4 linked regions of the Homo sapiens genome follow. The protein of the gene in region 4 interacts with the protein of the main gene of each other region in a pairwise test. Each region holds a gene or a part of one and is shown on either strand. Other genes may lie near its edges.

The links.
Region 1: the proteins of TMEM187 (region 4) and COMT interact in binary tests that used the Homo sapiens proteins (3 or more experiments, as listed by UniProt).
Region 2: the proteins of TMEM187 (region 4) and GORAB interact in binary tests that used the Homo sapiens proteins (3 or more experiments, as listed by UniProt).
Region 3: the proteins of TMEM187 (region 4) and CGRRF1 interact in binary tests that used the Homo sapiens proteins (3 or more experiments, as listed by UniProt).

The regions. Positions count from the first base shown.
Region 1 is NC_000022.11:19,937,117-19,944,844, reverse strand, and holds the start of COMT (catechol O-methyltransferase), read right to left. Parts: upstream 3,042-7,728; 5' UTR 2,948-3,041; intron 1-2,947. Other genes in the region: endogenous retrovirus group K member 24 Gag polyprotein-like, read right to left, coding at 7,019-7,728; TXNRD2 (thioredoxin reductase 2, mitochondrial isoform 5 precursor), read left to right, coding at 3,042-3,144. UniProt on the Homo sapiens protein: Catalyzes the O-methylation, and thereby the inactivation, of catecholamine neurotransmitters and catechol hormones. Also shortens the biological half-lives of certain neuroactive drugs, like L-DOPA, alpha-methyl DOPA and isoproterenol.
Region 2 is NC_000001.11:170,534,652-170,542,456, reverse strand, and holds part of GORAB (RAB6-interacting golgin), read right to left. Parts: intron 6,148-7,805; exon of another isoform or gene 6,036-6,147; intron 3,248-6,035; coding exon 2,890-3,247; exon of another isoform or gene 2,886-2,889; intron 1-2,885.
Region 3 is NC_000014.9:54,505,290-54,513,341, reverse strand, and holds the start of CGRRF1 (cell growth regulator with RING finger domain protein 1), read right to left. Parts: upstream 3,437-8,052; 5' UTR 3,383-3,436; coding exon 3,279-3,382; intron 1-3,278. UniProt on the Homo sapiens protein: Able to inhibit growth in several cell lines.
Region 4 is NC_000023.11:153,975,071-153,982,875, reverse strand, and holds part of TMEM187 (transmembrane protein 187), read right to left. Parts: intron 1,780-7,805; exon of another isoform or gene 1,699-1,779; intron 1,027-1,698; 5' UTR 814-1,026; coding exon 28-813; 3' UTR 1-27.

The sequences.
Region 1 (7,728 bases), on a different chromosome or scaffold from region 4:
TTGTTTTGTTTTGTTTTGTTTTTGAGACGCAGTCTTGCTGTGTCGCCCAGGCTGGAGTGCAGTGGTGTGATCTCGGCTCATTGCAAGCTCCACCTCCCGGGTTCACACCATTCTCCTGCCTCAGCCTCCCAAGTAGCTGGGACTACAGGTGCCCGCCACCACGCCTGGCTAATTTTGTATTTTTAGTAGAGATGGGGTTTCACCGTGTTAGCCAGGATGGTCTCGATCTCCTGACCTCGTGATCCACCCGCCTCGGCCTCCCAAAGTGCTGGGATTACAGGCGTGAGCCACCGCTCCCGGCCTAATTCTTTTTTGAGATGGAGTTTCGCTCTTGTTGCCCAGGCTGGAGTGCAGTGGTGCGATCTCGGCTTACTGCAGCCCCCCACCTCCCAGTTCAAGCGATTATCCCGCCTCAGCCTCCTGAGTGCACCACCACGCCCGGCTAATGTTTTGTATTTTTAGTAGAGACAGGGTTTTGCCATGTTAGCCAGGCTGGTCTCGAACTTCTGGACTCGGGTGATTTGCCCACCTCGGCCTCCCGAAGTGCTTGGGATTACAGGCATGAGCCACCGGGCCCGGCCTATCCTTGAGGTTTTATGATCTGCCTGTCACTTGGACTGTCACTGCCTTCCTACACGTCAGCCCTTACCAAATCCTCCCATCTACTTTCCTTCAGTATCTGGCTACCTACCACTCTCTTCAGACTGACATTTCTAATTTGTCTCCTCCCTGACTTGGTGTCACCAAGAACTCAAATCCCTATTGGGACTCAGGTGGTCTTGTAGCTGCCCTTTGCCCCCAGGATCTGAAAAAAACAGCCCTGCAGACTGAAGCCGGAAAACTTGATATAAACTTGAAAGAACTCAGAACCACAACAGATTCTCCAGGGGCAGCCTTTGTGCCTGGAGCTGCTGCTACACAGGCCGCCCAGGAAGACCCCCCCTCCAGCTCCTGCATGCCACATGCTCTCTCCAGAAAGTAACCACAACTGGGATACCAATGCCTATGCCATCATCACAGACTTCACACCACACACCAGGAAGTCCCTGAGTGCCCCTGCTGGCCTTGTTAGGGCCCAACGGCCAGAAACCTCAACTGCTGCCCTGTAGGCTCAAAAACTGGGTTTATCAACAGCTCCATTCATCTTTGTTTTTATTTCTTTCTTTCTTTTTATTTTTTTATTTTATTATTATTTTTTTTTTTTAAAGATAGGGGCTCTCTGTTGCTCAGGCTGGAGTATAGAGGCAAGATCATGGCTCATGGCAGCCTCCGCCTCCCAGGCTCAAACGATCTTTTCACCTCAGCCTCCCAAGTAGCTGGAACTATAGGCCCATGCCACCACGCCGGGCTAATTTTTAAATTTTTTGTAGAGATGGGGTCTTTATGTTGCCCAGGCTTGTTTCAAACTCCTGGCCTCAAGTGATCCTCCTCGGCCTCCAAAAGTGCTGGGATTACAGACATGAGCCACTGTGCCTGGCCTGTTATTTTTGTTTCCTCATTAAATGCTTGACTGCTTGCATCATCCAGCAAAAATCCTTTGCTACCAAGTCTCAACAGATGGTCCCGCTGGTAGTTTATGAACACAACACAGAACAGAAAATGGACGGGGACTGTTGAGAGGAAAGAAGCAGGTCTCTGCTCTTCTTGCACAGGGGGAGTGCTGACAAAGACCCTCCCTCCCCACACTCCAGCCAGGCTCCTTAGAGTCCCCTTCTCCACTGGGCCTCACCCTGGCCTATCTAGGCTGGAACGAACACTAACATAGCTCCTAACAGCTCAAGGCCACATTCCCAGAACGATCCTAGCCCCCTCTAAAGTGCCTGCCTGAGAAGTTCAAGGCTGCCACAAGAATTTCCTGTGTGTTCCAGCCAACACCTGAGGATGGGGCCCCTGTCTCCCAGTCTCTGTGGGAGGTTGGGGGCCTGACTTCGGTAAGCCCCAGTGGCAAACCCAGATCAGTTGGTTTCACAGGGGCCAACCCTCCCTTCCCAGTTTTGGTGATTTTCTGTTTCCCTAACTCTACTGAGTCCCCACCCCTTCCCACTCCCTCACTCTCCCTTTAAACTCCAGGCACATCTAGACAAATCAGCATGGAGCCAGCTTTTTCTCATGTTGTCAGTAGTTACCAAGTAAAATCTGTTTTTTCTGCATTAACTAGTGTCTCACTGGGCTCTGCAGGGCAGCTCCTACGGTCCCTCAGGCTTGGAGGGTCACTTTAAACAATAAAAAGCAACAGGACACAAAAATCCCTGGCTGGAAAAATCCAAAAAGCAGGTCTGTTAGCAGGGCAGGCCCGGAGTGACTTCCCCTTTCTCTAACATTCCCACGTGGTCCTGCACACCACACATCCCCCCGACCCTGGGGAGTCCTGGGCCCCTTCCTGGTGGAGCAGCCTCTCTCTTGCAGGGAAAGGCCCTGGGGTACCCCAAGGCCTCCAACAGGGAGCCTGTTGGAGAAGTCACCAAGGCCCTCTGAGTCTGGGGCTCCACAGACCCTCCCCCAGGCCTCCTGCAACTCTCCAGCTCTGAGAGTCTGATCCCAGCCCAAGGACCAAGTGGGACCCTCCCCTGTGACTCTACCACACCCTCACCAGGTCAAGCCCTACTCCAGGGAGAGGCTTATCCTCCTGGTCTGGACCCCCAACCCAGTCTTGAAGCGGGATCTCTCACCGCTATCTGGAGCCCCTCATCACAGCACAGATCTTCAACCTCAGCTTTCCACAAGGAGTCTGGGGACCCCACCCCGGTCCAAAGATCCCCACCCAAGGTCCGAATTCCCCAGTTCCCATCCAGATTCCCCACCCCAAGTCCGGAGACTCCCACCCAACGTCAGATCACTTCACAGCGGTCCGAATTCCCCACACCCTATCCCAGTGTTCCACCCTAGGTCTGAAGGCCCCCGCCCCGAATCCGGCCGCATTCGGCCCCGGTCTAGCCAGCGCTCTCACCTCTCCCGCGACGGCCCGCCCGGGACTGGACCCGCCCCGGTCCGGCGCAGGCAGCGCGGCGGGCAGCCCTAGCTGCCCCAGAAGCCCCACGACGATGGCGGCAATGGCGGTGGCGCTGCGGGGATTAGGAGGGCGCTTCCGGTGGCGGACGCAGGCCGTGGCGGGCGGGGTGCGGGGCGCGGCGCGGGGCGCAGCAGGTAGGATGGGGTCGGGGCGTCCCCGCGGTAGGTGTCCGCGCGGCCGGGGTGTCCTCGTGAGGGTGTCCGCGCGGCGGTGGCCAGGGTGTCCCCGTGGGGGTGCCCACGCGGGGGTGTCCACATACCGGCCTCTTGGTCTAGTCTTGCTCAGGAGTCCGGGCTGCTTCTAGCCACAAGTAGCCCCCTTCCCAGGTGGGGAAACTGGGGCTGGGTGCCTTGTCTAAGGTCCTGCTGTGCTGACTGCACCTGTGGTCTCCCAGAGCTGGTATCCCAGTAACAACTACAGTTCTGAAGATGATGATATCCCACCTCCCGAGGTCACCAGGCACCGGCCCCACTGGCCAGACTTCCCAACTTCTCCCCAGACCCCTAGACTCTAGAGGTTAGAGGCTGCACAGAGCAATGGGAGGATACACACTCGTCCTCCTGGAGCCCCTGAAGAACAGTTAACTAAATCAGGACAATAATCATAACTGAGCACTCGAAGCAGAGGCTGGGTGTCTGGTCACTCAGGACAGTTCAAGCCTCATCCTGTAGGACAGACTCCCCTAGATCCGACCAGAGCGCCACCATATCTGTTATGTGTGGCCAGTTTCATTCCATGCACGACAACATGGTCCCCCACCATGCAGGGGGCCCCTCGACCCAGCCCCCTGGATGCTTGTGACAGCGAGCAGCTCTCCCCACAGGCAGTGAGTGTAGAGGGGTGTAAGGACGGGGTCAGGGCTCCTTCCCAGGGATGGCGGCTATGGGAGGCATGGTGGCTGGCCCTCTGCCCGCGGTGGACTCGGGAGGGAGGGCTGACTGTGTGTGTGAATGGGCAGAGTTGGTGCTATGGAGGTTTTGGGGGTCTCCAGGACGGAGGGTGGCCCAACAGAGTTCTGGGAGGCAGTCACCACCTCGTGGCCTTGCTGAGACCTGGAACCCTCAGCCAGGGCACTCCATCTTTCAAAGCTTCTTGGCTGCATGCGTCAGGTGGGCAAGCTCAGGAAGGTTAAATGCACCCGTGCTGGCGGAGTCCCATAAAAGGGGATTCGGCATCAAAAGGAGGAAAAAGGTTCAAAGGGCATTTATCATGGGGTTCAGAATCACGGATGTGAGGGGCGGTAGTGGGGACAACAGACAGAAAAGCTTCCCCTTCCCATACTCACAGTCCAGACACGGCAATAGCCAAATTCCAAATTTCTAGGTATTCTGGACTCAGAATGGGGAATATCATACGAGACTTAGGGGGATAATGCCCTTATCTTCCTATTTTAAGGGAAAGAACAAACTGAACCTTCTATGCAAAATAGGATGATGATCCTGGTCCTCCCAGTAAGAAATAAAATAAGTAGTCTCCAGGCATTCCTTTCCGCCAGAGGAGCAACTGTTTTTTAAATAGCCCTTTCGTGCCCAGTCTGTTACTAAACCATATGAGTTGTTTTTTTGGGGTTTTTTTTTTTTTTTTTTTTTTGAGACAGTGTCTTGCTCTGTCGCCCAAGCTGGAGTACAGTGGTGCGATCTCAGCTCACTGCAAGCTCCGCCTCCCGGGTTCACGCCATTCTCCTGCCTCAGCCTCCCGAGTAGCTGGGACTACAGGCATCTGCCACCACGCCTGGCTAATTTTTTTTGTATTTTTAGTAGAGACGGGATTTCACTGTATTAGCCAGGATGGTCTCAATCTCCTGACCTCATGATCCACCTGCCTTGGCCTCCCAAAGTGCTGGGATTACAGGCATGAGCCACTGCGCCCAGCCGAGTCATTTTTTAATACTACTGCATGTGAGTTAACACAATCATTCCCAAATTGAAGTTTTAGATGGGCCCTCAAAATTTTTAGGATATGGTTTTCCTACAGGTTTATATTGAAAGTATGGGGTATCTCCTATTACTCCTCTTTTTATTTGTCTTAAAGGAGAAAGGGAGAGGCCAGAGACCAAATGTCCCCATTTCCCTATAGCTAATCTCTCTGGAAGACAAGCAGCCCAGACTTGAGCTTCTAGATGGATACAACCAGGTGCATGTCCAAGGCACAGAGGAGGGTATTTATAACCCATAGTAACATTAAATGCAGTGCCTTCTCCTGGCTGAGCGGTGCAACGGTCATCTGTAGTTCCAGGCATCCACACACTATCGTTAGTATAGATTTCTGCAGGAGCATCCATCCAGGTGAGAGGTCGAATAAGTGGAGGAAAAGGCACATAAGCCCAATAAGAATAATTTTGTGTAGCAGGTAAATCAGTTTAAGGGGAAACTGGTGAGACAGAAAGTGTAAGGAAGATAATTATTAAATAAAACCTATTGTAAGTGAGATCCAGTGCTGAAGGAGGAAGAGAAGAACAGAGGGATGTTATTTTCAGGCTAATAGAAATGGTGAGATTTTTAGGTTCGTAAGGAGAAAAAGATAATTAGGAGAAGTGGGATTAGTTAGAGGGGTTTACATTGCCATTAGGGAGGATTGAACCAGACCCATTTTGATTTGGCATGCCAGTTTCTGAGGAGTCGGTACAGATCTCATCAGGTATGAGGGCAGTCTCTGACGCGAACGTCTCTTCCTCGTGGTTTTTATTGTCAGTATTCACACGAAGTTTAAGTCTCCTAGTGGGCACCCAGACGGGATTGACGATCTCCTGGTAAAACACAAGCATACCCTCTTCCCCACGTTATAATTGTTCCAGGTTCCCAGGTATTGGTTTGGGAGTTTTTCCATGACACTGGCTTGCCTTCGTTTAGGGAGAATTTTTTGCCTGTATAATGGCATTTAGCTGCAGTCAGAGTATTGTTTTTAGGAACATTTAGAAAGCTTAAACAATGCTAAATATAATTGGGAGTGGGGAGTAGTTAAATTATGCTTTTAAACCAGCCTTGTCTTCTTTTACAGTAACTTGAAGAGGTTTAGTAATTTTTTCACGTTTTGGACCGAGACCGAGTCTGGAAACAAACCCCATGTTTTCCATTATATGTTGACTGGGAGCACTGTAAAAGTTATGTGGAATATTAATTTCAGCCCCAATTTGTGCCAGCAAATCTCTGCCCCGAAGATTAATGGGGATGGGCATGATATAAGGCTGAATTGTTCCCTTTTGACCATCAGGGCCAGTGCAAGCCAAGATAAATGTGCTCTGGTGAACTTCTTCAGCTTTTCTAACACCTTCTAGTTTCATGTTAGTGGGATGTTTAAGCCAGGAGGAAGGCCATAAATTAGAGGAAATAATAGAAACATCAGCCCCAGTATCAACTAGGCCCTCAACCTTTTTTCCTTGAATGTGTATGGTGCAGGTAGGCCATTGTTTAGAAATTACATTAATCCAATAAGCGGCTTTTTCACCGCTGGAGCCCATCCCAGGGCCCCATGTCTTATCTCCTTTGTTTAAAACAATGTTAGGTAGTAAAAGTAATTGAGCAATTGACTCACTGGCCGGAATGGAAACAGGAACTTTGGCAGACACCATAAGTTTACATAAGTTTAATCTCATCAGAGGAATCAGAATTAATGAGACTAGTATGAACTATGATACCTTTAGTATCATGAGGTGGATGCCCTGCCTAACACCAGGCCCACCGAACCTTGAGGTAAAGGGCCAGTGACCCCCATGGGGACAATTAAAGGCAAAGAATTAGGTAGTAAATTTAGAGGAATGGTACTACAGAGATCGACCGCCCTGCTGCCTACTGTGGAGGTAGACAAGCATTGTACTGAGACAGAAGAAGAGGCTGGGACCCATCTGGATTGGCTGTAGGTAAATTTGTTTGTGCTGGGGGCTGCGTTGGGACTGCTTGACGCAAAAACACAACATTGGTCTGAGTCCGAGGTGTCCCATTTGATATTGGGGCCTGGGACTGGCCTTGCTTCCTGTTTCCCTGGTTCTGTGGCAAGGGATTTTCATCTATATCAGACTGAGTGGCAAGTACTTGCCCAATGTTTACCCTTACGACAACGCAGGCAAACAGTAGCAGGAGCATTTGGCCGTGTTTGTTGAGCCGGCTTGGCCGCTTTTAAGTTTTTAACAGTGTAGTTTTTTTGGGTATGACCAAGTTGGCCACAATTATAGCAGGCTCCAAGAAAAGAATCAGTCGAGCCAGTTTGGTTGCCGTGCTTCATGGCCGGTGCCCACAGAATAGCTCTGTGGGTCTCCGATCCAACGCCTTCACAAGCTTTAATATATGCAGGCAACACCTCATGATCAGGTAAATTTTGACGTAGGATGGAATGCACGGCCATTTTACACTCATGGTTCGCATTTTGAAAAGCTAACATATGAAGAAGAATACCTTGAGTGTGCTCATCAGAGACAGATTTTTCAACAGCATCTTGTAATTTAGCTAAAAAATCAAGATATAATTCATTGTGACCCTGTTTAACAATAGTAAAAGAAACAGAAGCTTGGCCTGGGGTGCGTAATTTATCCCAAGCTCTCATACACACCTTTGTTACTTGTTCCGTGGTGAGAGCATCAAAGCCTAAATGAGCAGTAGTATCAGAGTAATTATCGGAGCCTGTGAGCTGAGCCTGAGTAATTGGAATGCCATCAGCCCGATTTAGCTGAGCCTGCAGGCGGGCCTCCTCTGACCACCAGGTATGGAATTGTAAATGCTGAGATG
Region 2 (7,805 bases), on a different chromosome or scaffold from region 4:
GAAAGAAAAAGAAACTGCTACCCTATCCAACACCTTACCAGTCTCAGTCCTCTAAGTATAAAATTTAATCAAGAAGATTTATGTATATGTTCTTTCAAAAGTCCTCTTAAAAGAAACCCATCTGCAGTTCATTATTTTGCTCTAATGGGAACAAAGACTACGATCTAAAGTAAAGAGGCTTACATAAATTGGACCTCTGAAATCCATTATATATATAATCTAGGAATCCACAAACTGGAAGCCAGAATACTGTGGCATGTGTTTAGGAGTACAAAGAAATTTGTGTAAGTTAATTATGTATTATATGCAGAATGGAGATTAATAAAAATTGGTTTGTAGCTGATGTCATATTATTTATACCTTTTAGAGTTTTCTATAAAGTCTCCACCACCTTAACATGTTTCAGACAATAACCAATGTTTATTTCATATATTAATATTTTCTTTCAATTTGCTCACTTTTTCCCAACTCTTAAGACTTTTTTTTGTCTTTCTTTTTTCCTTTTTGTGGAGAACAGGGTGTCGCTATATTACCCAGTCAGGTCTCGAACTCCTAGGCTCAAGCTATCCTCCCGCCTCTGCCTCCCTAAGTGCTGGGATTACAGGTGTGAGCCACTGTGCCCAGCCCAACTTGGACATTTTTAAACAAAGTAAAACACTAAGAGCTAAGACTGGAATGCTGGGCTAAAGAAAAAAATTCAAAGATGTGAAAACATGTATTGTCTTACAATCTGTCCAATTCTAAAATAAATACATTAAAATTTCCCATAAAGTCATGAGCTTGATGTCAACTCAAATTAAACAAGGTATTGGCAAAGCTATTTATTCCTATTACTGTCACTTCTTACAGCCATTATATCACATACCTCTATTCCCAAATCTAGTAGCCCCTTCCAAAATTGTCCTTCTCTCTCCATTTCTACACCTTCCACCTTAGTGCTGGGACTGGTCATTTCTCACTTTTACTACTGCAGGCATCTCCTCACCAGGCGCCTTAGTTCCACAGCTCACTATGCACTCTCTTGCATATGATCTACAATATTGACACCTGGGATTTCTCTAACCTTTATTTTGATTGCGGCCTTTAGCCCTCAGAGAGCTTCATGGTAACTTGCTGCATTAGTGAACTTGCTAGGAAGGAAGGCATCCCCTGCTTCCGATCCTTTCTCATTTCTTTAATTCTCTACTTATTCATCCCCTGCTTCTGCTTCTGATCCTTCCTCAGTTCTGCTTTTTTTTTTTTTTTTTTTTTTTGGGACAGAATCTTGCTCTGTTGCCCAGGCTGGAATGCAGTGGCATGATCTTGGCTCACTGCAACGTCCACCTCCCAGGTTCAAGCAATTCTTGTGCCTCAGTCTCCCAAGTAGCTGGGACTACAGGCATGCACCACCACGCCCAGCTAATTTTTTTGTATTTTTGGTAGAGACAGGGTTTCCCCATGTTGGCCAAGCTGGTTTCAACTCTTGGCCTCAAGTGATGTGCCTGCCTCAGCCTCCCAAAGTGCTGGGATTATAGGTGTGGGCCACCACGCCTGTCCTCCTTCCTCATTTCTTTAATTCTCTACTGTTCTCTGGCTTATCCTTTGCCACCTCTCCCAGAGAAATGAGGTATCATCTCTGAACATTCTCTAGGACACAGCTTTCCTTTCTCCTCCTTAAAACCTCAAAATTTCTCCTTTACGTGAATGGTTTGAGGTTACAGGTCTTTTATGAAAATTCTTCCAAGTATCCAAAAAAAGAATAAGTTTCCCTATAACATCCAATCCAAATTGTCCAGCTCAATGTAAACTTACCTCCTATTTGTCTCCGGCCTTTGTTAGTAAACTACACTTAGAGACACTTTAATGTATGCACTTGTTCAATATAGGTTTCATAATTCATGTGGTTTTATAACTCTTGTCAAAATGATTTCTTAGTTGTAAACCCCTAGTGGACAGGAAACATTTTAAATTCACAGGATAGAATCTGGATCAGCAGAGATTAAAAAGATGTCAGAGATTAGAAAAAAAAAAAGATACTTTGAAAAGAACTCAGAAAAGAGAAAACAGAAAAATGTCATTCCTTCTCTGTGAGAGATAAATCAGGAGCAAACAAAGAAATAAGAGTATATATTAAAACACAAGCTATCAAATAAAAAATTCTAAGAATTTGCAAATCAAAAAATGGCATCTTCCACAAGAACAGTGTAGCTAAATTATGAAGGTTGTTTCTAATACAAAGACAGTAAAGAATAAATAAAAAGAAATCTAATGATGAACTGAGTTATATCATTAGTCCCCTAAATTTCCTACACTCTCTCCTTTGACCATCCCTTCACGTCTCTCCACAAGTTCCAATTTCTGGGCCAATGGAAATAGTCTGGAAGTTGAAAAAAGGGGTCAATTTGGGCAGAGGCACTATGCATATAAGAACTGCTTCTGAGCTGTGATTGCGCCATTGCACTCCAGCCTGGGCAACAGAGCGAGACTCCATCTCAAAAAAAAAAAAAAAAGAAAGAAAAAAAGAACTGCTTCTGCTCAGTGTAAAAGGCATAAACTTTGGATCCAGACAGACTTATCTGTAAATCTCTACTATTTACTAGCAGTGTATTAGCTTTAGAAAGGTATCATCTTTTCTGAGTCCCAGATACCTCATGTATAAAGTTTAAATAATAAACATGCATTGTAAGGCTGTTATGAAGACTAAAGAACATAAAACATACAGAATGCCTGTGTCCAGCTTATATTTAGGCAGTAGCTATTTTTCAATAGTTTATACATCACATTCCTATGATTGAATGAATATAAAGGAGAGAAAATGTTAAAATAAACAAATTATATTTCCTTAAAGCCCATTGGGAAAAAACGGGTTAAATGAAAAGTCTCATGGACTTTTCACATAGACTTACTAACAATTCCACTTTCTTTTTCTCCAATTTGCAATCTGGCTTTGGAGGTAGAATCTCAACATTGTTGTGACCATCATGGGAATTCTCAAGTCCCAGTTCCTTTGGCTGACTTTCAATGCCCTGTGGTTGTCCATCACCAACGGGGGAGGTGAGAGTGAAATGACTCGGAAGAGTAGGGGAAGAAAAAGGTGGTTTTTGAACGTTAACTCTCTGTTTTGGTGCTGAAAGCAGCTGCTCTGGAAGTAATGAGGTTGATCCATCTTGAAGCCCAAGTTTTTGGCTTTGCTCTACAAGGGCTTTTTCTCGCTGAAGTTGTTGTCGACTTTTCTTCGCGGGGAGACGTCGCTGTGGTTCAAATGGATCTATGTAAAAGAAAATAGAGGAAAATTCCTTTGTGTGGGCAGCAAATAATTATAATTCCTCTAAGAAAATAAAAAATTAACATTAAACGTTGATAATTCTAGTGGTTCTCCTACCCCATTCTCTATCTTGAAAGTCTAGGGGAAAAACAGCCATCTTCCTGTAGAGTTTCAATAGTTTTCAGATCATAATGTTAATATTTAACAGAAACTGCCCCATCTCTTAATTTATCTTCAGAGAAAGTCCATCAGTGAGTTAGGCCTTAGGTCACAAAGTGAAGTTTCTTTTTCAACTTGATTTCATAGTTGTCAAAAGAAAGCAACTAATTTTGACCAAATCAGGGAGGTGACTGAATTATCTGGTTTTAAATTTGATTTATGGTTCTGTCTGCTCTACTGAAACAAAATGGTGGTTGCATTTTCAAATGGGATTACCCTCTCTTAAATTTTAACAGCTTTTAGGGCAATTTGGTACATATGTGATACATATTCAGATGCTATAACAGGCATGTAATTGAGTGAAGTCTCTTATTTCTAGGAATGCTAGTTAACCTTAAATTGTTGTCTTTCATCCTACAGAACAATCCAAGGTTGTACTCCCCGAAGCCTAGTCAGGCTCTAATCAATGCATTCAAACTGATTTTAATAGTAGCCTCAGTAAAGCAATAGAAGATAAAACAACTGGGGGGAAATATCTTTAAAGTTATAAATAATAACACTTCTATTATACTTTTTGGACTGTCCATGCCAGTGTTAACATCTTAGGGCAGACAATTGGAGAATCTGACCCACATTCATACTATATTTCATAAGATCTATAAATAGCATTCTCTCTTAAATGCCTGGGAAGTGAAGTTATCAGTTCTTGTAAATGAACAACTCAAATGGGACTTTCAAATTTGGCATATTGACTTTTGAAGCAAAACAAGCTTATTATTTGAATTTCCCAAAGTATAGTTAAAAGCTCTAGAGTCACAATTCCAGCTTTGCTTCTGCCCAGCTCAGTGACCTCAGGTAAGTCAATTATTTATTCAATACCTTAGTTTCCTCATCTATCAAGCTGGTTGAAAATTAACCTGCTCTACTTAATGCATGAAGTTGGTGTAAGAATTAAATGAGATATGTACAGAAAATATTTTTTAAAAGACTGAAGTACTATCAAAAGCAAATGTTATTGTTGACTTTAGCCAGAAACACAAAGTATCCTGTATCTTGCAACAGGAACACATTCTTGGCTCTGATCTTTATTCACACCATCAAAAAATGTCACTTAGCCTGCTTATCTCCCTGTTGAACTCATTAGCTGAATTATTAATAGTTCCTCTGAAATTCAGGTAGTAACTTCTATTTTATTTTGCATTTTTACAGAACCTACCTATAAGACTGAAAATGCTAATTTTAAACAATAAACAATAAGCAAATCAGGCCACTTAAACACAGAACATATTGCTTCCCACACTCTGTATTAGGGGCTGCAAATATCAAGGAGACTGTGGTGAACTGAGAAGCGTAAGTCTAGTGTAAAGGGGGCAAATTCCGAGTCACCTTTAGTCAATTGCTATCATTAAAAAATTTAGGTCACCATAGCCAGATATTTTGATTTTTATGATTACAATTTAGACTTTTATGTAAAATATCTTGATTTTTAAATGTAGGGAACTGTTTCAATCAGGAAAATCTAGATTACGCTGTAGGGGCAAATCTTAGTGGTTTTAAACCACAAAGGTTTATTTTTCATTAATGCCAAGTGCCAACTAAAGGCTAACAGAGAGGTTCTGCTGATTAGTCTCTCAAGGCTCTAGGCTGACTGTACAGTCAGTATTCAGTGTTGCTGGCCACCACAACACAAGGAGAAGAGAGAGGTCAGGAAGGTCTTGCTATAGCAATTAACTGCTGACCCAGTAGTGACATAACACTTCTGCTCACAATGCAATGGCTAACCTAGTACATGGACCTACCCCCAAACAAAGGCAACAGGTATAGCTGGCTTAGCAAATAACACAATGATTATCACCATTATTAACTAAAAGAAATGTAAAGATTGGATAAAAGAAAGAGAGACAAAGAAGAAAGAAAGGAATGAAAGAGGGAGGGAGGGAAGAAGGGAAAGAAAGGAAGGCAGGCAGGAAGAAAGGAGGGAAAAAAGAAAGAAGGGGAAAGAAAGGAGGCAAAGCTGAAAAGCCACATACATTTTTGGGTTAAATTAAGCTAATGGGCTACCAGTTTGTGATATATACTCCATATCCTTTATTTAAGCCCTGCTCCCTCCACCTCAGAAAACTATCATTTGAATCATATGTTGATTATTCTCTTCCTTCTCTAATAGTCATATTGCATCTACAAATATTTCTAAAAAGTATTTACTTAGTTGTTTGACTTTATAAAAAGGGTTTTGTGCTGTACATCTGTTTTACTTAATATTACACTGTCAATAGTCATTCATATTGTCTATGTTTCAGCAGTCATTCATTTTGTTGTATAACATTTCATTGTGTGAATAAACCAGAGTCTATTGATCTTCTTCCACTGATAGACATTTAGGTTGGTTACAGGTTTTTGCTTTTGTAAATTTCAATAATGTGTCTCTTATTTTACATGTACAAGAATTTGCTTTGGATATTATCTAAGAACTACTGAGTCACAAAATATAACTTTAGAAGAAATGTGAAAATGCTTTCCAAAGTGTGCTCCCTCTAGTAATGTATAAGATCCTGTGGATGCACTTTCTCTTCAATACACGATACTGTCAGATGTTTTAATTTTTGTCAATCAAATGGGTGTAAAATAGTACCTCACTGTATTCTTGATTTGTAATTCTCTGCTCCTTGGTGGTGATGAGCATCTCTTCATATTTCCTTTTCTAGGAAATATCTATTCATGTCTTTTGTTGACTTTTCTTTTGTCTTGTATTTTTTATATATCAGCAGAAAACAATTAGAAAATACAATTAAAGAGAATATATTTCAATACCAGAAATTATTACTTATCTAGGAACAAATCTAACAAAAAGATGTTTAGTACCTCTATAGGGAAAACTCTAAAATTTTATTGAGAATTTAAACAAGTACTAAATAAACGGAGACATATACCACGTTAGTGGCAATGTTAATAATATGAAGATGAAATTGATCTAAAGATTCAATGCAATTACAATCAAAATTCCTAATGGGTTTTCCATTAAATTTGGTAAAATTATTAAAATTTTTATATGAAAAGATAGAAGGTCAAGAATACTGGCTGGGTGCAGTGGCTCACACCTGTAACTACTATACTAAGTATAGTAAGAAACTAATTTCTTAAGACATGGAAATGTTGGCTATTAAAAAAAGGTTGACATATTTGAATACATTAAAATTAAGGCCTGGAGTGGTGGCTCATGCCTGTAATCTCAGCACTTTGGGAGGCTGAGGAAGAATTTCTTGAACCCAGGAGTTTGAGACCAACCTAGGCAAAATAGCAAGATCCTATCCCTACAGAAAAAAAAAGAAGAAAGAAAGGAAGAAAACTAGCATGGTGTAATGGCACACAGCTGTAATCCCAGCTACTTGGAAGTCTGAGGCAGGAGGATCGCTTGAGCCCAGGAGTTCAAGGTTATAGTGAACTATGATCGTGCTACTGCACTTCAGCCTGGGCAACAGAGTGAAAGCCAGTCTCAAAAAATAAAATACTTTGTTCATCAAAAAGATAAAAGTGAAAAGATAACTTAAAAACTGGGAGAAGATATTCATAATGTAACTGGCAAAGAATCAGTATGAAGAATAACTCTTCTGAATAAATAATTTAACTAAAAATTGACAGCATGTGGCTGTACTGTTTTCTTCCAATTTTTCATTATGAAATAGACCATACATCAAATATATGCATGTGTTACACTCATAAACACACACACTCAGTCTTCCAACCTATATGATTAAAAAGAAAGTTTAAGAAATAAAATATGACAGTAGTAGAAGTAACTACTCTTTAAGGATAGACATAATCCTCCTTTTAGAAGAGAGAATTTATTTCCTGTCTCCCAAGTTATATGACTTGCTTTTGGTAAATAAAAGTAGGAGTGTCACATGTCATTTACTGGTGAAAGGATTTAATTGCCAATGTTCAATTTTCAATCTTCTTTTCTTCCTACTATGGTAAACTCCTACAAGACAGCACCAAAAAACGGAGTGACTGTGCAACACAGTCACCTGCCAAACCCACATTAAACATGAAACGAGTGAAAACCAAATCTTTATTTTAAACAATTGACTTATTAGGGCTATTTGTTACTTTAGCTTAACTTGTCTTAACCTGATTTCATAAATACCAATACCTCTGAAATTCCCTCTCCCTGATCACATTCCCACGCCTCCCCACTATATACAATCATACGTCACTTAACAAAGGGATACATTCTAAGAAATGTGTTGTAAGGCAATTTTGTCCTTGCGCAAACATCAGAGAGTGTATTTACACAAACCTAGATGGTACAGCCTACTATATACTTAGGCTATATGGTACAGCCTTTTGCTCCTAAGCTCCAAACCTGTACAGTATGTCACTATACTGAAGACTGTAGGCAACT
Region 3 (8,052 bases), on a different chromosome or scaffold from region 4:
CGCTTTAGCCACTTGGTCCTCCAGCACACAGCTTCAGAAATAATTTTATCACAATCAACCAAATGTATCAATTTGATTGTGATGCCACTACATGTTGTGGGTTACTAGATTATTTCCCATTGGCAAAGAGCTAAAGAAATTACCAAACCGATGCCCCCAAATTCTATCTTTGAAAGTTTTCTCACCAGGATCCCATTCTTAGTGACAATTTCTTTATCAGTCAGGGTCCAGGCAGGAGTCTGAAAATGCATCCGTTATTTTAACAGAGAGATTGGACTTGATTTTTAAAGTTGTCAGCATCAACATCAAGAGAAATTTTCATATGAAAAATGTTAACCATATGTTGAAGAACTGAAAAGGCAAAAAGAGGACACTGAGTCCTACTTATGTGATAAGAAGTAGTAACAGCAGGAAGCAGCTATCACTCCTAGGACAAGGGAACAGAGAAAAGAGAATAAAGAGAATTTACTATAGTTTAGAAATGTGGAGGAGAGACTCTATGGAGCTCAGGACTCAGATCTGAGGAAAGGATACTGGTATCTTTAAGGAAGTGCATAAGGCTGATTCTAGCAGAGTAGGAAAGCATAAACTGGAACAAGTGGGACCAACTATTAATGCCAGAGTGAGGCACTATTGTGGCAAGTGACAGACAAGAAAAGGAATCAACAGGAAGCAGCAAGTCCCTTCATCCTCTTCCAGCTTTCCAGTCTCCCTCCCTTGTTGGCAAAGCCCAATGGGCAGTCAGCTTGCAAAGAAGAAATGTAGTTTAGAGTTCTGCCCTAGATTCACAAAGCAGAGGGTGGTATGAAGTTGAGGTCAACAGCTTAATAAACTGTGGTCAAGAGGAGGCCGGGAATAGCTACTGGAGTCATGGTCCCTGATTATTTGAAACTGTTAAAGGATGTAAATGGACTTTTGGGCTTCTTTGTGCTCAGTGCCTGCAGAAAGCTATCAGAGATCACAGAAACCACCACATGGTGAAAGAAAAATACTATATTTCCAGTTGCATGCTTCTTTGCTATTGCTATTGGGATTCCAATAATCATATGCTCCTGTTTTTTCTCCACTCCCACACAGTGCAGGCAGACATGGCAAACAGTGGAAAGAAGCAAATAGTGAAAAACTCAGAGAAGTACCAAGGGAAAAACCATGACAGAAAACACATGAACAGTAGAGATGGTATTATGGGAGGTTAAAACAAAACAAAACAATGACAAGGGTGAAAAACATGCGTATTAACTAGTTTACCCTTCTGACTGGGGTACTATTGGTACTATTAGAAAGATGTTTTTATGCGATTTAGATGGTGTCCAAGTTTTCATCATTTCTAGTCAATAAATACATGGCCTTGGCTTAAGTTTGCAAATAAACATAGTAAAAAGTTTATCTACGTGGGCAAAACTAACTCGGATGGAGAGAATGGTTGGGTTAGGCACAAGATGACTGGTTAGGCCTAAATTAGGATGGAAGTGACTGGATTTACATGGTCTTGTGGCCTCAGCAGTGCTTAGCCCAGACTTCCAAACGTTCTATAATTACATGGGCTTCCACTCTTGTAAAAAGTCTTACCTAAATGGGGTGATTTGGCAATTATTAAATTTTCAAACCAAGTCTTAAAGCTGGCAGAGCCAGGATTTGAACCTATGTCTGACTGACTCCAAAGTCTGTCTGTTAACCACTACAAACATGAGGCTCCTGACTACCCTCTTCCCAATACTAAAGATTGATATCTAAGATATCTAATTAGTTGGCCTATTTAAAATAAAAATTAAAGCACATAAGGCAATTATCAACTAGTTACTATTTTCCTTAGTGGAGGAAAATTATGCTTCATTAAGAGAATAACACTAACATTATAGTCATTTAAAAATCTTGTGTTAAGACTGCTTTTCTCACATGGGCAACACCTTCCTCATTCCAATTACAAACTTTTGTGTAATGAACATTAGCAATAAAATCTGATGGGTCAAGAATAACCAATTGTGTAAGATTGGTCTTTGTTTTCCAATCTTACCCCCACAAATAAGGAATTTGTATTTCCAATCCTCACCCACATACAAGGCAAGGAATTCTATGCTCTATTGCTGGTAGGGTGAGGAGCAGTGTGGACAGGTTAAAACTTTTGTCACTTCCTAAAGATGGCATATATTTTCAGAAACCGACAAGGGCCCGTGTTCTTTAAGGCAATCACATATATGTGACCAAAGGCTATTTTAAAACTCGTTTTACGTAGCCTTCTTTATTCACTAACATGTTCTCTGCCCCTATGCTCATGCTGTCTTCTCTGAGATGCTTTTTCTTCCCTACTATATACATTTAACTCCATTTATTTTTCAAAATGCTCATTCTCCAAAATCCAGCTCATGTCCCTCTTCAACAGAGTCCCCTCTGACCTCTTCAGACCATGGCTGTTATCCACTTAGAACTGCTGTTTGATCTTTTTGTAACTATTATCATCTCAAAGGGATTTTGGAGGCTGCAGCCTAGAAAAACTGTTGTGGGCTAGTTACACGGTTTCAACTCGTTATTTACAAGGCTTGTCTAAACATGATACAATAGCATCTCCTCAAGAGAGAAATTGAACCTCTAGGCTAGAAGAATTGCTCAGCGGTTATCTAACAGACCATTCTCCTTGTCTCCAATAGGCAACTGTCCTACCCTCGGTGTTACATATTTCTAAGGTCTCTTCCAGCTCTAAAATTATGATTTTACAATTCTATCGACTAAATATTACTTCAAAAGGTGTGGAATGTATACAGAAACCATTAAATTCTCAAACGGTAACAGTTCAGTTACAAGTTACTCTGAAAGATCTGAGGCTAAGGGCTCCATTCAGGTCAGAATCACAACTGTTAACCTCGCTTACTGTCCAGTCTGTGCACTGTAGCACAGGTGACTAACTCATCCAGGACACACAGTAGGCCCGAATCCGGGACAGAAGCCTACTAGAGAAGCACTTTCTCCCAACACCAAGCCCAAGCCCAAGCCCTTCCTGGCTGCTTTATCGCCTAGAAACAAAGCTGAGTAAAACACCCCAATGCGGTACCACCCCAAGATGCCCCAGCGACACGGACCAAACGGTGATGCAGGGCAGTGACGCAGGTGCAGCGTCCACCTTGTTTTCCTCCCAGAGAAAGTCGGAGTTCTAGGCACCCGGGGACACCGAATCCCCGACGTCCTCCGGCCCGCGGCCCTCCGGCTCCGGTGCCCCCTGCTGCTCGTCGCGACCCCACTCTGGCGGTATCCGCCCCTTCGTCTCTCACCCCTGGGACACTTACCATCCCAATACCAGGCCGGTGGTCACGATGAAGCAGGTAAAGACCACCGCGATGTAGAAAAGCGGCGAGTATTCATAAAGCGTTACCAGAAACACCGCAGCCATCAGGGTCTTGCTCTGGGTAGAGCCCGGCTCCAGCCGCGGAGCCCAGCCCAGCCCGGCTGAGCCCCGCCCGCCCGGCCAGGGTAAAAGCCACTACAGTGCCCCGGAGCGGACAAACTTTGTAGGTCCGCACTTGCCTGGGGTTCTCATGAGCTAGACTTTAGGGCAGCCTCGCGGACAGCGGGAGCTGGCGTGCCAATCACGGCGCCCCCTGCCGGACACGCCACGCCCCTCCCGCTCCCGTCCCGAGCTATTGGCTACGCAGACCTGGGATGGGGGGGGCCCGACTCGCACCGCCCCCGACTCCCAGGATTGGTACCCAGCGGGCGTCTTAAGCGCTGTGGCCCAGTGGTCATTGCTGTTCCGCCGGCAAATTCTAAGTAGACTTTGGGGCCAACTCTGTGCCAGCCTTAGGCAATGTAGGTTTTCTGATGTCAGAGAGAGGCGCAGTCTGAAATCTACGTGCATCGTTTCTAAATCCTGAAACCCTGCCTATTATATCTTAGGCAAATTTGGGAGAGGGTGGAGGAGGAGGAGGAGGAGGGCGGGCATCTTGGATTCTACAAAATGAAATAACCATAAGCACAGTGAAAACACAAAAAAAGGAGTCTCTACCACAAGCAATTTATACGAGACTTGTCAGCCTTTTCAGATTGGACTTAATCATAGAGGAAAATCAGCATTGCTTATCCAAGATTCTCTTAGAAATAAAGCATCCGCTTCCTCCCACATCCCCCTCCTTTTCTCCTCTTCTTGTACTCCTCAAATTAGAATTAGCCAAACATTTGAAACTGTATTTGTTTCCACTTTAAGAATAATTTTTAAAAAACTTTTTAAATCACACAGAAGCTTTTTAAAAATTACTGAAAGTAGCTAAATGGTCACTCCCTTGTCTCAACCCTGTGAGTCAGCTCCATCAAGGTGGCCTCCCTGAAAGTCTTTCATAACAGTTCATTGACACCTCGTTGGTTTGCATTTACTCCTAAAGCCACATCTAGCCACATCAGAGAATGGGGATATGTAGTCTTATTATTCGTGAGCAGCAACACACCCTGGTACAAATCAAGAGTTTTGTTACTGAGGAGGAAAGAGAATGGACATTGGGATAGTTAACTAGTAGCCTCTGTCACACTCCTAAATCACCAGTAAAATTCGTGTTGAGAAAGATGAACTAAGTTTGTCCTATGGCCTCACATATTCCTTGGCAAATGAGCACGTAGTCTCTGGAGCAGCACTGTTTGAGAAGCTTGCTTCTACAACACAATTTTTAATTACTATATATCTGATTTGTGAAAATATATACTTTAATCAGCCCTCAACTGTTGGAGAATTTTTCATTGCTATAAATAACACTGCAATGAACATCCCTACAGCTAAAGTATTTCCTTAGGATAAATTACTAGAGGTGGAACTATGGTTTTAAAAAATGTACATTTTAAAGATTTTGTAAAAACACTGCTCTCCAGAAATGTACCAATTTGTATTCCCAGTTTTTCATCCACAGTTTTGCCATCATTTGATATTGTCACTTAACAAAAATATTGGCCAATCTGAAAGGCTCCCTTCTCCAGCAAGCCTTCCTGGATGCTTCCAAACCCTTGGGGAGATGCCTCTCCCAAAGCACCCAGTATGTAACTGTATGGGAGCCCTCTTATTTCTGGTGTGAGCACCTGCTCACTAGTGTATTTAGCCTGCTAGGAACCCAGCTCTCTGAGCACAGGAATGACACATAATTGATGTTTGTGCCACCGGTACCTAGTATATGTCGGGTAGTCATATTACTGAATTAATAAATAAATGAAATAAGCTTTTCTCCATGAGATTACTTGGAAGCACAAAGTATCTATATTAGAGTTTTTTAAAAAAAAGTTTGACTCTCAGATGAACAGGAAGAATGACTGTTCTTTATTATCTATAACTGATCTAGTTTAGCTTGAAACCCCACCCTAGACCCAGCATGGTGGCTCATGCCTGTAATGCCAGCACTTTGGAAGACCAAGGCCAGCACTTTGGGAGACCAAGGCAGGGAGATGGCTTGAGCCCAGGAATTGAGACCAGCGTCAGCGACATAGTGGGACCCTGTCTCTACAAAAAATTAAAAAATTAACTGGGCGAGGCAGAAGGATTGCTTGAGCAAGGGAGGTTGAGGCTGCAGTGAGCCACGATTGTGCCGCTACACTCCAGCCTGGGTGACACAGCAAGACGCTGTCTCAAAAAAAAAAAAAAAAAAAGCAAAGCAAGAACCTGTCTCAAAAAAGAAGAAAAAGAAAGAAGCCCCACCCTACTATTAGACGGGGTAAAAAGAGAAGACAATGTGAGCTTAAATTTATCAATAAAAAGTATCTTAGGCCGGGCATGGTGGCTCACGTCTGTAATCCCAGCACTTTGAGAGGCTGAGGTGGGCAGATAACTGAGGTCAGGAGTTTGAGACCAGCCTGGCCAACATGGCAAAACCCCATCTCTACTAAAAATACAAAAATTAGCCCAGCATGATGGCGGGCACCTGTAATCCCAGCTACTCAGGAGGCTGAGGCAGGAGAATTGCTTGAACCCGGGAGGTGGAGGTTGCAGTGGGCTGAAATTGTGTCACTGCACTCCAGCCTGGGCGACAGAATAAGATTCCGGCAAAAAAAAAAAAAAAAAAAAAGTATCTTAGACTCTTCAAGTTTAATTGCACCTTTTAGGAAGCTGGTCTCCTTTAGGAAAATGTTTAGTCTCTCCTCTCTCTTCTCTTGATTCTTCCCAAGACAGTATCTGATTGTACAAGGTGTTCATATGACCTGATGGTGGAGGTCAGGAAAATGAGACCTCAGCTCTGCATGACACCTGTAGGTCCTCACTAAGGGGAAGCGGGTTTCATCTGGCTTTTTGTGGTACCAGGCCAGCCCTCACTGCGGAGATCCAGGGTTCCAGCCATTTACCTCTGGTTGTAAAACCCTCATAAGCTATGGCTCCTTAGCTCCACTAGCTCACCAGACTGCTTACCATCTCCAATGTTACTTACTGGGGCAATATGTAAACATGTAGATTCTCACATATGTCACATGCAGGCTACTGAGAAGCAGCAGTTATCTCAGGATGCCCAATCAGGCTACCTCTGCCACTGAATGCCATTGCTCTAGCACCATGGTGAAGGTGGTGTGAAGCAAGCCAAATGTAAGGCCTCTCCTCCTTTCCTAGAGGGAAAGTGGACTACCAGCTCCGATCTCTTCAGTTTCTCCAGTACCCCACCTATTTGTTTTTTAATTTTTTTTTTTTTTTTTTTTTGGAGACAGAGTCTCATTCTGTCGCCCAGGCTGGCGTGCAGTGGAGCAATCTTGGCTCACTGCAACCTCCACCTTCTGGGTTCAAGAGATTCTCCTGCCTCAGCCTCCCGAGTAGCTGGGACTACAGGCACCCGCCATCATGCCTGGCTAATTTTTGTATTTTTAGTAGAAACGGGGTTTCACCACATTGACCAGGCTAGTCTTAAACTACTGACCTCAGTGATCTGCCCGCCTTGGCCTCCCAAAGTGCTGGGATTACAGGCGTGAGCCACTGCACCCAGCCCCAATACCCCACCTATTTGGGTGCTTCCGCTACAACCACCTGCTTCCCTGAGATTCCAGCCTGGAGGGATGTGGGGACAAAACTGTCTTTATTTTATTTTAATTTTTGAGACAGGGTCTTGCTCTTTCACCCAGGCTGGAATACAGTGGCATGATCACAGCTCACTGCAGCCTCAACATTCTGAGCTCAAGTGATTCTCCTGCCACTGCCTCTCAAAGTGCTGGGATTACTTACTCTTTATGTAGAAACATCGCTGGAAAAGATGGTCCCGATGCAGACCCTAAGAGCAGGTTCTTGGATCTCGTGTAGGAAAGATTTTGAGGCGAGTCAGAGAGAACAGTGAAATAAGCAAGTTTATTGGAAACTACTCTGTTACAAAGTAGGAGTCTTCAGCAGGAGAAGGAACATTCCATTCTTTTTTAGTGCCTCTATACTTATAAGAAACTAAAAGGAGCAATATTAAACTTGGAACATGCAGATGTGCTCACTAAAGGTAGGGGCTATTGGTGTTACAGGTGACCATTAATCAATCCTTCAACCCAAGCCTCTTAGTTAATGGTATCTTTAAGCAAAGTGGGCTGCACTCTTAGGACATCTGGGCATTCTGAAGGCTTGGTGGGAGATGCTCTGTATGGTTATAAATACTCTGCATTTATAAGTGGTGGTCAGCTTGAGATGTGACTATTTTCGACCAGAAGTATTAACCTTATAAGCCTTGTGAGTGCTTAGTTACTCACTCAAGATGGAGTCCCTCTGTTCATGCATTATTAAACCAGAGGCCTGAAAAGCAGGGGTTTCTCTAACAGGAACATCTATTCATTTTAAGTTTCCTCCAAAACAACCCTTGTTGTTACAGAAATCATAGGCTCTCCTCTGACACCCATAGCCACCTACACATTCCTTCCAGAGCACATATGCTCTTTTCCCAAGATATAAGCCCTGGGTCTGGGGTGTTGTAGTGCGAAGATCTAATTGTCTTGCGGCTGCCCAAGACAACATTTCTGTCTGTAAGTTTCCCTAATAAATCACATAAAACCAACAAACTGGATTTGTCTGCCTCCTTCTTTGGTTTCTCTGCTCCTTCAGCTTTTTATGGCCTTTTCACGGAACAAGGCGGAAGCCAG
Region 4 (7,805 bases):
CGGTTTTCAGCAGGTTCTTCCCTGGGTTCAACGCGTCTTCCCGCCAGAGGGATGGAATCTTGGGTGAGTGTTGAAATGCGTCAGAAACAAAAACGCAAAGTGGAACTGGAGCACGTCACAGACCTTGGACCAGAAGTGGCCTGTGAGGCACTGGAAGAGACGCCACCGTGCGAGCTGATGGTCACACAGCTTGAGGACCACAAAGCCCAGGCAAGAGAGCACCCCCAAAGCTAAGTAGGTAGCCGAGGTGGTGCTGCCATAGTGCCTGTGGGTGCGCAGCGCCTGCCCCACAGCGGCCACCACGTGAGCACCCAGTGCGACCTCGAAGCCCTGGGGATGCAGCAGAGCGAGGCCATAACTGGCCAGGGAGACGCACTCAAGAGAGAGGAACAGCCAGGGCCGCCAGCCGCGGTCTAGGTAGAGGCACCAGGCCACGGGCCATGCAAAGATGGGCAGTGTGAGCCACTGGTCCAGCACCGCGGCACGGCGCCACTGCGTCCACAGGCGCAGCCACTGCACGGGGCCATAGAGCAGGGCCATGGCTGCGAACACGTCCTTCAGGTAGCGGGGACCCAGCCCCATCGCGCCGCCCCTGTGCAGCCACGACAGCCCCAGCAGCGTGTAGGCCATGTTCACGAGTGAGTTGAACGGCATGGCCAGGAAGGCAGGGAGGCCGGCCACGGGCGCCTCGGCGTAGTGCTCATAGCCCACTTGCACGGAAACACTGTCGAAAATGCCCGTGAACACAGCCACGGCACAGAGGCCACCGGCCACGGCCACGTGCACGAAGGCCTGCCCCCACTCTGGATTCATCTGGAACCGGCGGCGTGACCTGGGGCAGGGAGCTTCAGAGAGCAGCCTTCAATACGCAGCCTCTGCAGAACACTCTGGGCCTCCCGGCTGAGCCAGCAGAAAGAAGCCCCGTGATTTCGTGATTTCCGAGGCAGATGCTGCGACCTTGCCCCGAAGGAAGGCAGGAGTCCTGCTGATTGGCTGGCGCCAGCGGAGGAACGTTCTGCCTTTTTCCTTTGTGGTTACAAAAGGAGTGTGGTTAGAAAACAAACCGTCCCCAGCACCGCCTCCATGTTCCTGACCCCCGGCCTCAGGAGCTACCAACCATCTTCACTGGAGAAGCAAATCAGAGTGAAACCGCTGCACACTGACTCTCTCAAGCCTCTAGAATCCTCTATCACCCCTTTCTCCTGGCACCTAGGAAAATCCTGCCCATCGTCCTAGTTTCCTTAAAGCCACTGCATCTACAGACAAGACCTGTCTAGCTCTGTCATTACAACTCAGAATGCGCCTTCCCATGTCAGTGTGTTATAAAAGTGGACGTCTCCAGCCCCAAAGCCCTTTTCACCAAATACCCAGCTGAACTAGAGACCATTAGATGGAGTCCGAGCTCTGGCCTCTGACACAAGGTGGGGGATGGAGGAGGAGGAGGATTCACCGTCTGCCACTCAAGCACCAGGCCGGGAGGCAAGGGGGTGACCCGCAGGCTTCCCAGGCCAGCTTCCCTGGCTCACTCGCCTGCCCTCTCCTGAAGTGCCAAGCCCCAAATCACCTTCTTTCCTCAGGCCACCATAAAGCCTTCTGTCTCCTTCAGTCACAGAACCAGAGAGACAATTTAATTACCACTGACTGTCAACTGCTTTGGGGCCACTGGTGCTGTAAGTGAGCCCTAGTAGCTGAGAAATACATTAATATGGAAGGGAGAAGAGCTTTAATGCTCTGAAAATGACTCCAATCATTAAAGCTCTTCTCCCTTCCATATTAATAAATTTCGCACTCAAGAGGGTGGGCGGGTAGGCGGGCTCAGGGAGAGAGAAGGGTGGGCTCCAGTTCCTGGTCAGCTGATGCCAGACTGTTCAAACCTTGGCTCTCCCACTTACTAACCATGTGATCTTGCACCTTAACTGTCTTGGGCCTCGGTTTGTGCACCTTTTTTTTTTTTTTTGAGACGGAGTCTCACTCTGTTGCCCAGGCTAGAGTGCAGTGGCACAATCTTGGCTCACTGCAACCTCCGCCTCCCAGGTTCAGGTGATTCTCCTGCCTCAGCCTCCCTAGTAGCGGTGATTAGAGGCGTGTACCACCATGCCCGGCTAACTTTTCTATTTTTAGTAGAGTTGGGGTTTCACCACGTTGGCCAGGCTGGTCTTGAACTCCTGACCTCAAGTGATCCACCCGCCTCAGCCTCCCAAAGTGCTGGGATTCACAGGTATGAGCCACTGTGCCCAGCCCGGTTAGCTCACCTTTGACCTAATCGCTTAGAAGTTCCAGGCCTGGGAGGGATCTTAGAAACCATCTGTGCCAGCCCCGGCATTTCACAGATAAAGAAACTGAAACTCTAGCAGTTTGACTTGGCTGAAAGTTACAGTGAGGAGGAGCAGAAACCCAGGCATGCCGCCTCCTGGCCCCAGGTGCTCTCTGCTCACCTCCCTGGAAGAAGCGCCAGGAGGGCTTCCACGTGGCTTCTTCCTTGCTTTCTGCTGCCATGGCCTGGGTATTTTTATTTAGACACGGGGGTCTTGCTCTGTTGCCCAGGCTGGGGTGCAGTGGCACAATCACAGCTCACTGCAGCCTCCACCTCCTGGGCCCAAGCTATCCTCCTGCCTCAGCCTCCCAAGTAGTTGGGACCAGGGATATACCACCACCTTGCCCTGCTAATTTTTTTTTTTTTTTTTGAGACGGAGTCTTGCTCTGTTGCCCAGGCTGGAGTGCAGTGGTGCGATCTTGGCTCACTGCAAGCTCCATCTCCCGGGTTCACGCCATTCTCCTACCTCAGCCTCCCTACCACAGCGCCCGGCCTGCCCTGCTAATTTTTGTTAAAAAAATTTTGGGCCAGGCATGGTGGCTCATGCCTGTAATCCCAGCACTTTGGGAGGCCAAGGCGGGTGGATCACGAGGTCAGGAGATCGAGAGCATCCTGGCTAACACGGTGAAACCCCGTCTCTACTAAAACAATACAAAAAATAGCCAGGCGTGGTGGTGGGCGCCTGTTGTCCCAGCTACTCGGGAGGCTGAGGCAGGAGAATGGCGTGAACCCTGGAGGCGGAGCTTGCAGTGAGCTGAGATCGCGCCACTGCACTCCAACCTGGGCGACAGAGCGCGACTCCATCTAAAAAAAAAAAAAAAAAAAAATTGTAGAGACAGGGTCTCACCATGTTGCCCAGCCTGGTCTCGAACTCTTGGCCTCAAGTGATCCTCCTGCCTTGGCCTCCCAAAGTCCTGAGATTACAGGAGTGAGCCACTGCACCCAGCTAAACCCCTCTTAAGTTGAAAGTCCAGTTCCTATATTTTCGACTTATGATGGGTTTATCTGGACATTACCCTGTTATACATCAAAAAGCATATGTAGCTGGGCATGGTGGCTCACATCTGTAATCCCAGCAATTTGGAAGGCCAAGGTGAGAGGACTGCTTGAGTCCAGGAGTTTGAGACCAGCCTGGGCAACAAAGTGAGACCCTGTCTCTACACAAAATACATAAAATTAAATTTAAAAAATAAAATAAAAATTAGCCAGGCATGGTGGTGCACCTATAGTCCCAGCTCCTCAGGAGGCTGAGGCAGGAAGATCACTTGAGCCCAGGAGATGGAGGCTGCAGTGAGCTATGGGCCACAGAGCAAGACCCTATCTCTAAAAAAAAAAAAGCTAGGCGCAGTGGCTCACACCTATAATCCTAGCACTTTGGGAGGCCGAGGCAGGTGGATCATCTGAGGTCAGGAGTTTGAGACCAGCCTAGCCAATGTGGTGAAACCCCGTCTCTACCAAAAATACAAAAAAATTAGGCCGGGCACGGTGGCTCACGCCTATAATCCCAACACTTTGGGAGGCAGAGGCGGGTGGATCACTTGAGGTCAGGAGTTCCAGACCAGTCTGGCCAACATGGTGAAACCCTGTCTCTACAAAAATACAAAAAAATTAACCAGGCGTGGTGGCGCACGCCTGTAATCCCAGCTACTTGGGAGGCTGAGACGGGAGAATTGCTTGAACCCAGGAGGCAGAGGTTGCAGTGAGCCAAGATCGTGCCATTGCACTCCAGCCTGGGCGGCAGAGTGAGACTTCATCTCAGAAAAACAAAACAAAACAAAACAAAACAAAACAAAACAAAACAAAACAAAAAATTAGCCAGGTGTGGTGGCACATGCCTATAATCCCAGCTACTCGGGAGGCTGAGGCAGGAGAATCGCTTGAGCCCGGGAGGCGGAGGTTGCAGTGAGCCGAGATCACGCCACTGCACTCCAGCCTGGGCAACAAGAGCGAAACTCCCTCTCCCCCCCAAAAAAAAAAAAAAAAAAAAAAAAAGTGGCCAGGCGTGGTGGCTCACGTCTGTAATCCCAGCACTCTGGGTGGCTGAGGTGGGTGGATCAGTTGAGGTCAAGAGTTCAAGACCACCCTGGCCAATATGGTGAAACCCCATCTCTACTAAAATACAAAAATTAGCCAGGCGTGATGGCTCATGCCTGTAGTTCCAGCTACTTGGGAGGCTGAGGCAGGAGAATCGCTCAAACCTGGGAGGCGGAGGTTGCAGTGAGCCAAGATCGTGCCACTGCACTCCAGCCTGGGCGACAGAATGAGACTCCGTCTCAAAAAAAAAAAAAGTATCTGTATATGCAGACCACTTAGCACTATTTTATTATTACTTCATTTTATTTTGTTTTTTTGAGACAGACTCTTGCTCTGTCGCCCAGGCTGGAGTGCAGTGGCGTGGTCTCGGCTCAGTACAACCTCTCCCTCCGGGGTTTGAGTGATTCTCCTGCCTCAGCCTCCTGAGTAGCTGGGATTACAACTAAAATTAGCCCGGCTAATTTTTGTATTTTTAGTAGAGACGGGGTTTCACCATCTTGGTCAGGCTGGTCTTCAACTCCTGACCTCGTGATCTACCTGCTTCGGCCTCCCAAAGTGCTGGGATTACAGGCATGAGCCACCGTGCCTGGCCTATTTTATTTTTTTATTGAGACGGAATCTTGCACTGTCTGCACTGTTGTCCAGGCTGGAGTGGTGTGATCTTGCCTCACTGCAACCTCTGCCTCCCGTTTTCAAGAGATTCTCCTGCCTCAGCCTCCTGAGTAGCTGGGATTACAGGCGCCCGCCACCATGCACAGCTAATTTTTTGTATTTTTTTTAGTAGAGACAGGGTTTCACCATGTTGGCCAGGCTGGTCTCCAACTCCTGACCTCAAGTGATCCGCCCGCCTCGGCCTCCCAAAGTGCTGGGATGACAGGCGTGAGCCACCACACCTGGCCTATTTTATTTATTTTTTGGGACAGAGTCTCGCTCTGTGGGGCAGGCTGGGGTACAGTGGCAGGATCTCGGCTCACTGCAACCTCCGCCTCCCGGGTTCAAGCGATTCTCCTGCCTCAGCCTCCCGAGTAGCTGGAAGTACAGGCGGGCCATCACGCCCGGCTAATTTTTGTATTTTAGTAGAGATGGGATTTTGCCATATCGGCTGGGGTGGTATTGAACTCCTGACCTCAACTGATCTGTCCCCCTCAGCCTCCCAAAGTGCCGGGATTACAGGCGTGAACCACTGTGCCCAGCCTATTTTATTATTTTTAATAGCATATAGAGTGACATTTTGATACATGTATATAATGTATAATGATCAAACAAGGTAATTAGCATATCCATCACCTGGAACATTTATCATTTCTTTGTGTTGGGAACATTCCAAATCCTTTCTTATAGTCTTTTGAAAATACACAAGAAATTGTAGTTAACAGTGCTCACCCTACAGTGCAGAACAGCAGGATCCATTCATGCTATGAAGCTGGCATTTTGTATTTGTTATCCGACTCCTCCGAATCTTTCCCTACTCTCTAATCTTTCCAGCTTCTAATACCCACTATGCTTCTATTTCCATGAGCTTGATTTTTTAAATATTTTACATAAGAATTAACACATACAATATTTATCTTTCTGTTCCTGGCTTATTTCACTTAACATAACGTCCTCTAGGCTCATCCATGTTGCCACAAATAACAAGATTTATCTTATTAGTTTGTTTATTTCTTTGAGACAGGGTCTCGTTCTGTCTCCCAGGCTGAGTGCAGTGGTGTGATTGCAGCTCACTGCAGCCTCCACCTCCCAGGCTCAAGTGGTCCTCTCACTTCAGCCTCCCAGGTAAATGGGACCACAGGCATGTTACCATGCCTGGCAAATTTTTAAATTTTTTTTGAAAGACAGGGTCTTGCTATGTTGCCCAGACTGGTCTCAAACTCCTAGGCTCAAGCGACCCTCTCACCTTGGCCTCCCAAAGTGCTGGGATTACAGGCGTGAGTTACTGCACCCAGCCAATAGTTTTTTATTTTTTTTATTTTTTATAGTTGGTTTTGGTTTTTTTTGAGACAGGGTCTCGCTCTGTCACCCAGGCTGGAGTGCAGTGGCACAATCTCGGCTCACCACAGCCTGCGTCTCCCAGGTTCAAGCAATTCTCCTGCCTCAGCCTCCCAAGTAGCTGGGATTATAGGCGCCTGCCACCACACCTGGCTAATTCTTGTATTTTTGGTAGAGATGGGGTTTCGCCATGTTGGCCAGGCTGGTCTCGAACTCCTGATCTCAGGTGATCTGGCCGTCTTGGCCTCCCAAAGTACTGGGATTACAGGCTTGAAACACCGCGCCCGCCAACAGTTTATTTTTAAATGGCTCAATAATATTCCATCATGTATCTATACCACATTTTCTTTACATATCAATCCACTGGTGGACACTTAGATTGCTTCCATATCTTAGCTATTATAAGTAGTACAAAGGCACGAAGAACCTACATTGGGGAAAGGATGGTCTCTTCAATAAATGGCACTGGGAAAATTGGATAAGTATGTGAAGAAGAATGAAAACTAGGCCCCTATCTCTCACCACACACAGTAATCAACTCAACATGGATTAAAGACTTAAAAGTAAGACCTGAAACTATAAAGCTACTAGAAGAGGCCAGCGCGGTGGCTCACACCTGTAATCCCAGCACACTGGGAGGTTGAGGCGGGCAGATCACTTAAGGTCAGGAGTTCTAGACCAGCCTGGCCAACACAGTGCAACCCCGTCTCTACTAAAAATACAAAAAGTAGCCGGGCGTGGTGGCGCACATCTGTAATCCCAGTTACTCAGGGGGCTGGGGCAGGAGAAATGCTTGAACCCAAGAGGAGGAGGTTGCAGTGAGCCAAGATCACACCACTGCACTCCAGCCTGGGGCGACAGAGCAAGACTCTGTCTTTAAAAAAAAAAAAAAAAAAAAAAAAAAAAAAAGGCTGGGTGTGGTGGCTCACACCTGTAATCCCAGCACACTGGGAGGCTGAGGCGGGCAGATCACCTGAGGTCAGGAGTTCCAGCCCAGCCTGTCCAACATGGTGAAACCCCATCTCTACTAAAAGTATAAAAATTAGCCAGGGTGGTGGCATGCGCCTGTAATCCCAGCTACTTGTGAGGGTGTGGCAGGAGAATCGCTTGATCCCAGGAGGCTAAGGTTGCAGTGAGCCAAGATTGTGCCACTGCACTCCAGCCTGGGTTTCAGAGTGAGACTGTGTCTCAAAAAATAAATAAATAAATAAATACAAATAATAAAATAAATAAAATAAAACTACTAGAAGAAAATGGGGAAATGCTCCAGGAAAGATTTTATGGCTAAGACCCCAAAATCACAGGCAACAAAAACAAAAACAGACAAATGGGAGTATATTAAAGTAAAAAGCTTTTGCACAGCACAGAAGCAATCAACAATGAAGAGACAATATAGGAGAAAATATTTGCAAATGATTCATGTGACAAGCACTGTTTATTTTTGAGGTGCAATGTCCATCTGCCCTAC